Linked DNA regions of Homo sapiens: region 2 is linked to region 1. Evidence: fine-mapped expression QTL. A gene starts in region 1. The other region holds a variant in brackets. All regions are shown on one strand. Distances are between the middles of the regions. Region 1 holds the start of ACTL8 (actin like 8). Region 2 overlaps ACTL8 (actin like 8).

What was found. PIP is the estimated chance that this variant, and not a neighbour inherited with it, causes the effect.
Region 2: its variant is the best candidate, but not a certain one, in a credible set for the expression of ACTL8 in prefrontal cortex (GTEx, PIP 0.74).

What each region holds. Positions count from the first base shown.
Region 1 is chr1:17,752,696-17,757,088 of GRCh38, forward strand. ACTL8 (actin like 8) reads left to right here and starts at 2,638. Exons shown (of 3, transcript NM_030812.3): 1 at 2,638-2,809.
Region 2 is chr1:17,823,935-17,828,327 of GRCh38, forward strand. It overlaps ACTL8 (actin like 8), which reads left to right. Exons shown (of 3, transcript NM_030812.3): 3 at 1,833-3,129. The coding sequence ends at 2,585. Among named protein-coding and RNA genes, the nearest start is that of ACTL8, 71 kb to the left of the region's middle. RefSeq lists an enhancer at 2,094-2,683. The variant C/T (reference allele first, on the strand shown) is at 2,153.

The sequences.
Region 1 (4,393 bases):
GTTGTTCTAGGGTGGACATTGTGGCTAAAATTTCTATGTGGACAGGCTCATTTGTACCTCAAGACAACCCAAGAGGAAAATATTATTATCCCCATTTCAAAGATGAGTAGGGCAAGATTCAGAGTGATCATGAGGTGGGAGGCAGGACTTGACTCCTGATGTGGGGCTTGGACACCGGACCAAATGGCGGACTAGCTAAAATAGAGGGGGCAAAGCAGCTTTCTATAAGACACATCCACCAGTAGGCCATGTCAGTTTACCATTGCCATGGCAACATGCAGGAGTTACCACCCCTTTCCATGGCAATGACCTGACAACCCAAAAGTTACCACCCTTTCCCTAGCAATTGCTGTATAAACCACTGCTTAATCTCCATGTAATTAAACATGGGTATAAATACGACTGTGAGGCTGCCCTGAGCTGCTGTTCTGCCTATGGGGTAGCCCTGCTCTGCAGGAGCAGTCAAAGACTGGAGCTTTATCACTGGCCCTTCAATAAAGCTCTGCTTTCTTCTACACTTTCTTCTCGCCCTTGAATTTTTGCCTGGAGGAAGCCAAGAACCCTCATGGGCTAAGCTCTGTTTTGGGGCCTGCCTGCCCTGCATCAGTCAGTTGTCCTGCCCAAGACTCATGGTTAGTAAGTGGAAGAGCTGAGATTTGCACCTAGGATGGTCTGACTTCCAAGACAAAGTGATAAAGAGTGTGGGCCCTAGGACAAACTATACTTCAGTTTCTTCATCTGTAAAATGGGGATGATAGGAGTAACTACCGCATAGATTATTGTCCTATGAGAGTTTGAAAAGAGTGTCAGGCACAGAGCACTCAAGACATGCTGGGTTCTCTGGTAGAAGCAGAGATTTTTGCCTCTCTGAAGCTAACATTAGTGTAATAAAAGCTGCAACCGGACTAAGAGGAGAGGACTATGGGAGCCCAGAAAAGCAGGCCAATAGCTTAGTAATTTGGGGGAACCATCAGAAATTTGCTGTGAGGGAGCAAAAAGAATGTGTGATTCATGTGTGCACTTATTTATTCAACAATATTTGTTTACCCACTGTATTAGTCTGTTCTCATGCTGCTAATAAAGACATACTCAAATCTGGGTAATTTATAAAGGAAAGAGGTTTAATGGATTCACAGTTCCACTTGGCTGGGGAGGCCTCACAATCAAGGTGGAAGGCAAAGGAGGGGCAAAGTCACGTCTTACGTGGCGGCAGGCAAAAAGCTTGTGCAGGGGAACTCCCGTTTATAAAACCATCAGATCTCGTAAGACTTATTCACTATCATGAGAACAGTATGGGGCAAACAGCCCCCATGATTCAATGATCTCCACCTGGCCCCACCCTTGACACGTGGGGATTATTAAAATACAAGGTGAGATTTGGGTGAGGACACAAAGCCAAACCATATCACCCACTGTGTACAGGTAGTACACAGTGACTGGATTTGAAACCAAGTTTGGGGGCTAATTTTTAAAAATTGAGGTATAATTTATCTACAATGCAACACACAGATCTTAGTGTTCAGTATGATGAATTTTTACAAATGTATACAGCACCCCAATTGCAATAGAGAGTATTTCCATTGCCCTAGAAAATTCCATTGTGCCCTCTTCCAGCTAAATACACCCATCTCCACCTGTTTTTTTTTTTTTAATTTCTGTCACTGTAGGTTGCTTTGCCTGTTCTTGAACTTCTGTGAACAAATGTGAACCTGAAAGGGCCAGACCTTCAAGATGGATCCTGAGTGGCTAAGTGGGCTAGGCTCCGCTGTTCTTGCTTGTAATCCCATCACTTTGGTAGGCCAGGGTGGGCGGATCACTTGAGCCCCTGAGTTTACGACCAGACTGGGCAACATACCAAGACCCTGTTCTCTACAAAATAAATAAATACTACCCCCCCCCCAAATAAGAATGGGTAAGTGGGCCTAAATTTAAAATAGAATGAAGCAGCCACTTGCTGACTATGGTTACACAACTACCCTGACTTCCCCAGAAAACCTGCACCTTTTTATCTTTGGTACTTTCTCAGCTCACCTGAACCAACCAATCAGGGCTCAAGTGTATAAACCAATCAGGGTTTGGCTGTATCAACCAATGAGAGCTCAGCTATATTGACCAATCAGAACTAAGCAAGTTTCAATCCTTCATTTGCACATCTTGATCTGATTGGGAACCTGGGCAGGAACTTTTGCGCAAAACTTGATGCTTCCCTCATTCTTGGGAACTCCCCTTCATTTTCCAGTGGAGGGTGCATCTCCAAGTTTGCAAACTGTTTTCTGTACTAAAGTCTCTTTCCTCTAAATTTCTTTTCAGAGAATTTTGTGCATAATGTAAATGGAAACTTACAGATTGTGCTGCTTTGCGTCTGGTTTCTTTTACTCAGCATAATACGTATATGATTAATGCATTTGTTTTATGTATCAGTAGTTATTTTCTTTTTCACTGCTGATATTTCATTGTTGCTGGTTGTCAAATTATTGCCTCTCCGCTCCACATTCACCCTTCTTGCCTGCTTGGTAAAAATGGATCTGGGCCCTTTAAATTTTCTCCCTGGCCAGCAGGCATGCTGGGCTTTGCCAGTAGAGGGCGCTGGGGAGCCCCAGCAGCGGGGAGGTTCCGCTTCCTGCTTGCCACGTGCTCACAGAGTAGGCTGCGGCACCACGTGCAGCCGCTCTCGTGCAGGCGTTTGCAGTGTGCAGCTGAGTTCGGCAGCTCACACAGCACCCCTTTCAAGTTGTTTTGCAGTGGGTGCCTCTTGTGAGACACTGTTTCTGAGAGCAGCTTTTGTGGCATCTTACAGGGCAGATTTCTGGTACGTTCTAAAAGTTGAATTTCTAACTTTGGCTGGTTGTGGCCCCTGACTGTTTTTTTTTTTTTTTTTGTCCTTCCTGTGGCACAGCCATGCCCTCTTAAGCAAGGCCTGGCTGTCAGCCCCCAAGGGTTTGTGTGTGGGGCACTTCTTTGTGGGGTTGGGGAGTGACAGGCTCTACCTCAGACCAAGGGCTTTTCCTTAGGGACTTGATTTCAGCTTTTGGAGGAGACTCTTCCATAGCGGCTGTACCTCAGCCACATGTGTGGGACTGGGGGCCCTTCCTTGGGGGCCCAAGCTTAGCCCCTTGTGGGGGCACCGCCTGGAGGGGGTTATCTCAGCCTGGTGGAGGGTCCCTTCCCTGGGGTGAGGGGCTCTTTCTGGAGGTCTCTATCTCAGCCTGATATGGGGGTCTCTTTTTGGGGCTCTATTTCAGTCCTGGGGTGGGGGGCTGTTCCTTGGGGGCTCCACGTCAGCCCTGGGAGGGCTCTTTTTTTGAGGACGTTTACTCTGTCACAGGTGGCAGGAGGGTGTCTCTTCGGGACTCTACCGCAGCCCTCAGGGGCTTTTTCTTTGTGGACTTTATTTCAGCCTTCGGAGGGGACTCTTCCTTGGGGGATCAATCACAGCCCTGGGTAGGGGGCCCCTTCCTTGGTAGCTCTGGGAGCTCTTCTTTGGGGCTCTATCTTATCCCTTGAATAGGGGCTCTTCCCAGGGGGCCTCAGCCCTGGGGGCCTCTTCTTGGGAACTTTTTTTTAAACCTCTAGTGGGGGACTTATCTTTGGGGAACCTATGAAAGCCCCCAGGGGCTCTTTCTTGGGGACTCTACCTTGGCCTTGAGGGGTTCTTCCTTGAGAGCTTTGTCCAGCTCTGGTTTGGGGGATTCTTAGCGGGGGGTTGTTTATCACAGCTCTGGATGGGGTCTGGTCTTCAGAGACTCCATCTCAGCTCTGTGGGTTGTGGTTGCTCCTTGCGTCTGCTGTTTCTGTATTAATTATCGTTCTCTTTACTCCTTATCAGTCAATTTCTTGTTAATTCAGTTCTCTATTATAAGTTAATAATTCTTCATATGAAACTTTCCCTGTAAAAATCACTGTATGGTGTCCTTTCCTTGACTGGACCCAAACTGATACAGAATTGGTGTCAGGAATAGGTATCAGGAGATGGAACCACAGAGGTACCATTTTGGGAGTGGTTTTCTGGTGATTTTGGGCTTGGGTGTAGTGTCAAGTTCCTTGCCAATGGGAAATGGGGTGCTAGTTACCCAAGGCATGTGGTGACATTATATGAGTCTATCATTTGCGGTTAAGACAAAATGCCACCTGAGGCACGTCTGTTGGGAGCCAGAGTGATGCTGCACTTGACTGTGTGGCCATAATGAGGACTGTGAGAACTGTGGGGTGGGATGGATCCTTTTGAGGGCTCCTGTCTTCAAGGAACCAGATACTATGCTCTATTTAAAACATACATAGGCAGGCCGGGCACAGGCATGGTGGCTCAGGCCTTTAATCCCAACACTTTGGGAGGCTGAGGCAGGCGGATTGCTTGAGCCCAGGGGTTTGAGGCTGCAGTAAGCTATGATTGCAC
Region 2 (4,393 bases), 71 kb after region 1:
GCTGATACAGGCCATGTTCTGGCCCTCAGAGAGCTTCCATGAAGGGGTTAAGAAATAATTCCAGGTAGTGATGAGTTCTAGAACCATAATGAAATGGGATCATGGTGGACTGTTGGGGGTGGGGAACCTGTTTGAAGAGAGCGCTCAGGAAGGGCTTCTCTGACGGAGGTGATTTCAGCAGCAAGAGCGGCAAGAGGCAAATAGGATGGTGAGGTTGGAGGAGGCTGGGCCTTGTAGGCCTGGTAGGCTGTGGGGAGTGCTTGGATTCTACTTTAAATCAAGGATTGGCAACCCAGTGAGCCAAATCCGGCCCACCACCTATTTTGTAAATAAAGTTTTATTGGAACATAGCCACACACATTCATTTATATGTTATGTAAGATAGAAAGAGAGAGGAAAGAAAAAAGAACATATGCTCATTGCCTGGTAGGTAAAGCCCTATTATTATTTTTTAAATAAAAACTTTCCAAACATGAAGACAAAACAGGAATTCTGATATTTAGGGTTTGGCAGAGTGTGCTTTCATACGACAGCATCTGAGTTAAGTTGTTGCAGCAGAGACTGTTTGAGACCATACATCAAGTTAAAGGCTAAAATATTTACTATTGTAGGTTTACTAGGTAAAATACGTGATGCCTAGTTAGACTTGAGTTTCAGATAAATTACAAATAATGTCTTAGTATTTAAGTATGTTTCATATTGCATGGGGCATACTTACACTACAATATTATTTATTATTGATCTGACATTCACATGTAACTGGGCATCCTGTAGTTTTATTTGCTGAATTTGGCAACCCTTACTGTCTATCCCTTTACAGAAAATGCTTGCCAGCCACTGCTCTAAGTGAATAGGAAGTTCCTGGGGAGTTTTAAATGGAGAGTTTTAAATGGGGGAGTTGTATCTGATTTTCTATTTGAAAAAGAGGACCTTGGCTGCTATTTTGAGAAATGGCTGGTGGGGGGACAATTTTCTGAGAGTAGTAATGGAGGGAGCCCCCTCCCACTGAGGGGAGACGATGGGCTTGTGGGGGCTTGAAGAGGTGAGTAAGTGGCTGGGACCACAGAAGGGTTGACTGTTAGGATCTTTCTGCTTCTATGGGATTAGAACCTTGGGGAGGCTGCCAGAGCTGAGGAATGGGGGGCAGGGGGGCTTTGTAAAGATTCAGGGGGTGAGGAGCAGGGGGAGAAAACCAGCCCAGGGACTCTGGCAAACCCTAAATACCAGAATTCCGGGTTTGTCTTGACGTTTGTAAGGTTTTTATTTAAAAGAAAAAATAAGGCTTTTCCTGCCAGGCAGTGAGCATCTTTTCCCTTTTTTTCTTTTTTCTTTTCTTTTCTTTTCTTCCTTCCTTTCCTTTTTCCTTCGTTCTGGCGTCTTTTTTCTTGTCTGTCTTATCTTTCTGGTCTGTCTTTTCCAGTCTTCCTCCACTGTTTGGAGACAGTGGTGAATACGCAACACTTGTTTCTTTTCTAATCTGTTCTTCCTTCTAAAGAGGCGGTTCAGGCTGCACATGTGACCCGTGGCCATGTTGCTCCTGCAGCCAGTGTCCCAGAACCATTTCTTGCAGCCACAGAGCTCTTCTCACCTCTTCACCGAAGTGGTCTTCTGAACAGCCACGACCAGACAAGCTCCTGAGGGCAAACCCAGCTCCCCTTCTAATCCTCCAGAGCTGCTGCATTATCCTCACTGCATAAGCTCCAGGGGCCCTGGGCGCAGCATCCTGGGGCAGCCCGAGAGTCCCCCCGAGGATGGGGCTCTGTGCTGACTTCAGCTTTGACTGCTGAGCAGGCTGGGGGGAAATGCACTGAGTGAATTCTCCCTCGTTGCAGATCCTGTTTGAGTTGCTGCATGTCCCATCGGTCCTCCTGGCCGACCAGCTGCAGATGTCCCTGTATGCCTCTGGCCTCCTGACCGGAGTGGTGGTTGATTCTGGCTATGGCCTGACCCGCGTGCAGCCTTTCCACCAGGGCCGCCCCTTGCCCGCCAGCGGCAAGACGCTGGAGTTCGCCGGCCAGGATCTCTCCGCCTATCTCCTCAAGAGTCTCTTTAAGGAAGATTGCGATAGACGCTGCCTGTTTCAGCTGGAGACAGTCGCCGTGACTCAGATGAACAAGTGCTACGTGCCGCAGAATCTGGGGGAGGCCCTGGA[C/T]TTTCGTGAGAGGCAGCAGAGTGCCTTGGATGAGAGCAACACCTATCAGCTCCCAGACGGCTCCCGCGTGGAGCTGACCCCCATGCAGCGGGTGGCTCCTGAGATGTTCTTTAGCCCGCAGGTGTTCGAGCAGCCGGGGCCCAGCATCCCACGGGCCATTGTGGAATCCGTGGAGTCCTGCGAGATCTCCCTGCGCCCCCTGCTGGTCTCCCACGTGATGGCCTGCGGGGGCAACACCCTCTATCCCGGGTTCACAAAGCGCCTGTTCAGGGAGCTGATGGGGGATCACGTCTCCTCCACCAAGGCCACAGTCTGGGAGGGTTCCAATAGAAACTTTAGTGTCTGGCTAGGAGCGTCCGTGGTGGCTCACCTTTCTACCTACCAGTCTGAGTGGATGTCCCGAGAGGAGTATGGTGAGCATATGAGGATGTGACCCTACTGGCTCACTCCTGAGAATGGGCTCCTGTTAGATGGGCACGGGCGGATTAATTTTAGCAAAATGTTCTGGGTGGGGGTAGAATGAGGTGGGGTGGGGTGAGCTGGCTTTGGAATTCTAGGGGCATGAGGGTATTTTTTAGGTTCTAAGGTTTTATCTTGTTGCAAGAGTGGGACCTACCCAAGGGGGAAGACAAGATGTCATCCTTGGAAACCCTGCAGGGGACAGTTTTTCCAGGGTGGCCTATCATTGGGGTATGAGTGGCTGACTGCCATCTCCATGCCTGAGAGCCACTGATTTTTCATTGGCATTTCCCCTGGTTTGTCTCATTCTTCTTGGTTGAGTAGGTTTTAACTGGGGTAGCACTCCTGCTAGGAGTCCCAATTATTTTTGACTAGGGGATGGGGGACAGTTGACATTTCTGGTCCTACAGGCCCTTTCTGGCCAGGGAGGCATTGCTGCAGGTGAGCCTGGGATGCCCTTGCCACCCGTGGTTGGATCTTGTTTTATATCTGCAAATAAATAGCTTGTTTGGAAGCAATGCTGGCTCCTGTGATGGATGGGGGTAGGGTGCGCAGCCCCTTGGGGAGACTTAGGGAGTGTAAGTGTGAGAGAGCCAGGTGGGGGCCAGGGCGGGCTCTGAGGTGTCTGGGGCCTATGAACAGTGGCTGCCACTGAGCAGAATAGGCAAGGGTCTGGACCCCGTGTTCTTTCACTGCCACATTCTATCCATCCATCCCAGGTGTCCCAATATTCTGTTTAAAGTTTCCCTTCTTATTCGTATTTGTTTGGTATATATCTGATGCATATTCAAGTACCTAGCATGTTTTAGGAGCTGTGCTGGACCTTGGGGACTTGAGAAAGATGTACAAGGTTTCTGGTTTCAAGCTTACAGCCTCCTGTGGGATCTATTGTAGACAGTATATAAGTAAACATATTTCTGATGATGAAGAATGAAATGAATCAAATGTGACACGGTCATGTGATCTGGAGGTGGAGGGATGGCCACTTTCAATGGAGTGGACTGAGATGAGGTTGCTAGGGACCATCAGTAACTGTGTCTTCTCCTTCCACGGCACACTGTGAGGCAATGCTCCCAAGTCTCCAGCAGTTATATAGGGCCAGGTGGCTGAGTTCTGGCTCAGTTGGCATGCACCTGACCTTAAAAATACTCCTTCACAGCCTGTGGGATGGGTCAATGGGGAGGACGTGTAAGCCCTAGGGGATGGATGGCAAATGCTGCAGATGGAAGGAGCCTGAGTGCCTAGGTGGAGCAGAAACCCCTGCCCAACCCCACCAACACTAGCCTGTGGCATGAGGAATCTATGTTCAGCCACTGAGAGTGTGGGGATGTTTGTTACAGCAACTGTTTTGCTTACTCTGACTAATACAGAGAAGGGAGCCACAATATACTATTTATTTAATAAAATGTGTTTTCTGTTAAGTGCCAGAACTGGGGTTTGAACCCAGCCTGGACTCTCAACCACAGTGTTATCCAGCTGTTTCTGAAAGGGATTCTTGGCTCCTTAATGTTAAGAGCTGGAATAGAGTAACAAGTGTAGTTTGGAAGACTGAAGCTCAAGGAACCCAGATATCTCAGGGCAAGTAGAGGAATTTGGAGGGCAGAGTCCAACTCACCTTGTCTTTGAACACATGAGCCATATTCTCATGTGTTTGCTCCCACACTTGAAGCATCAGCAGTCCCCAGGGAAAAGAGTGGGGGCCTGGAATAACAATTCTTAGGTAGACCAACTCAGAACCAGCCTGGTGCAAGCCCCAGACTTGGTGTCAGATTGAGTTTCAGG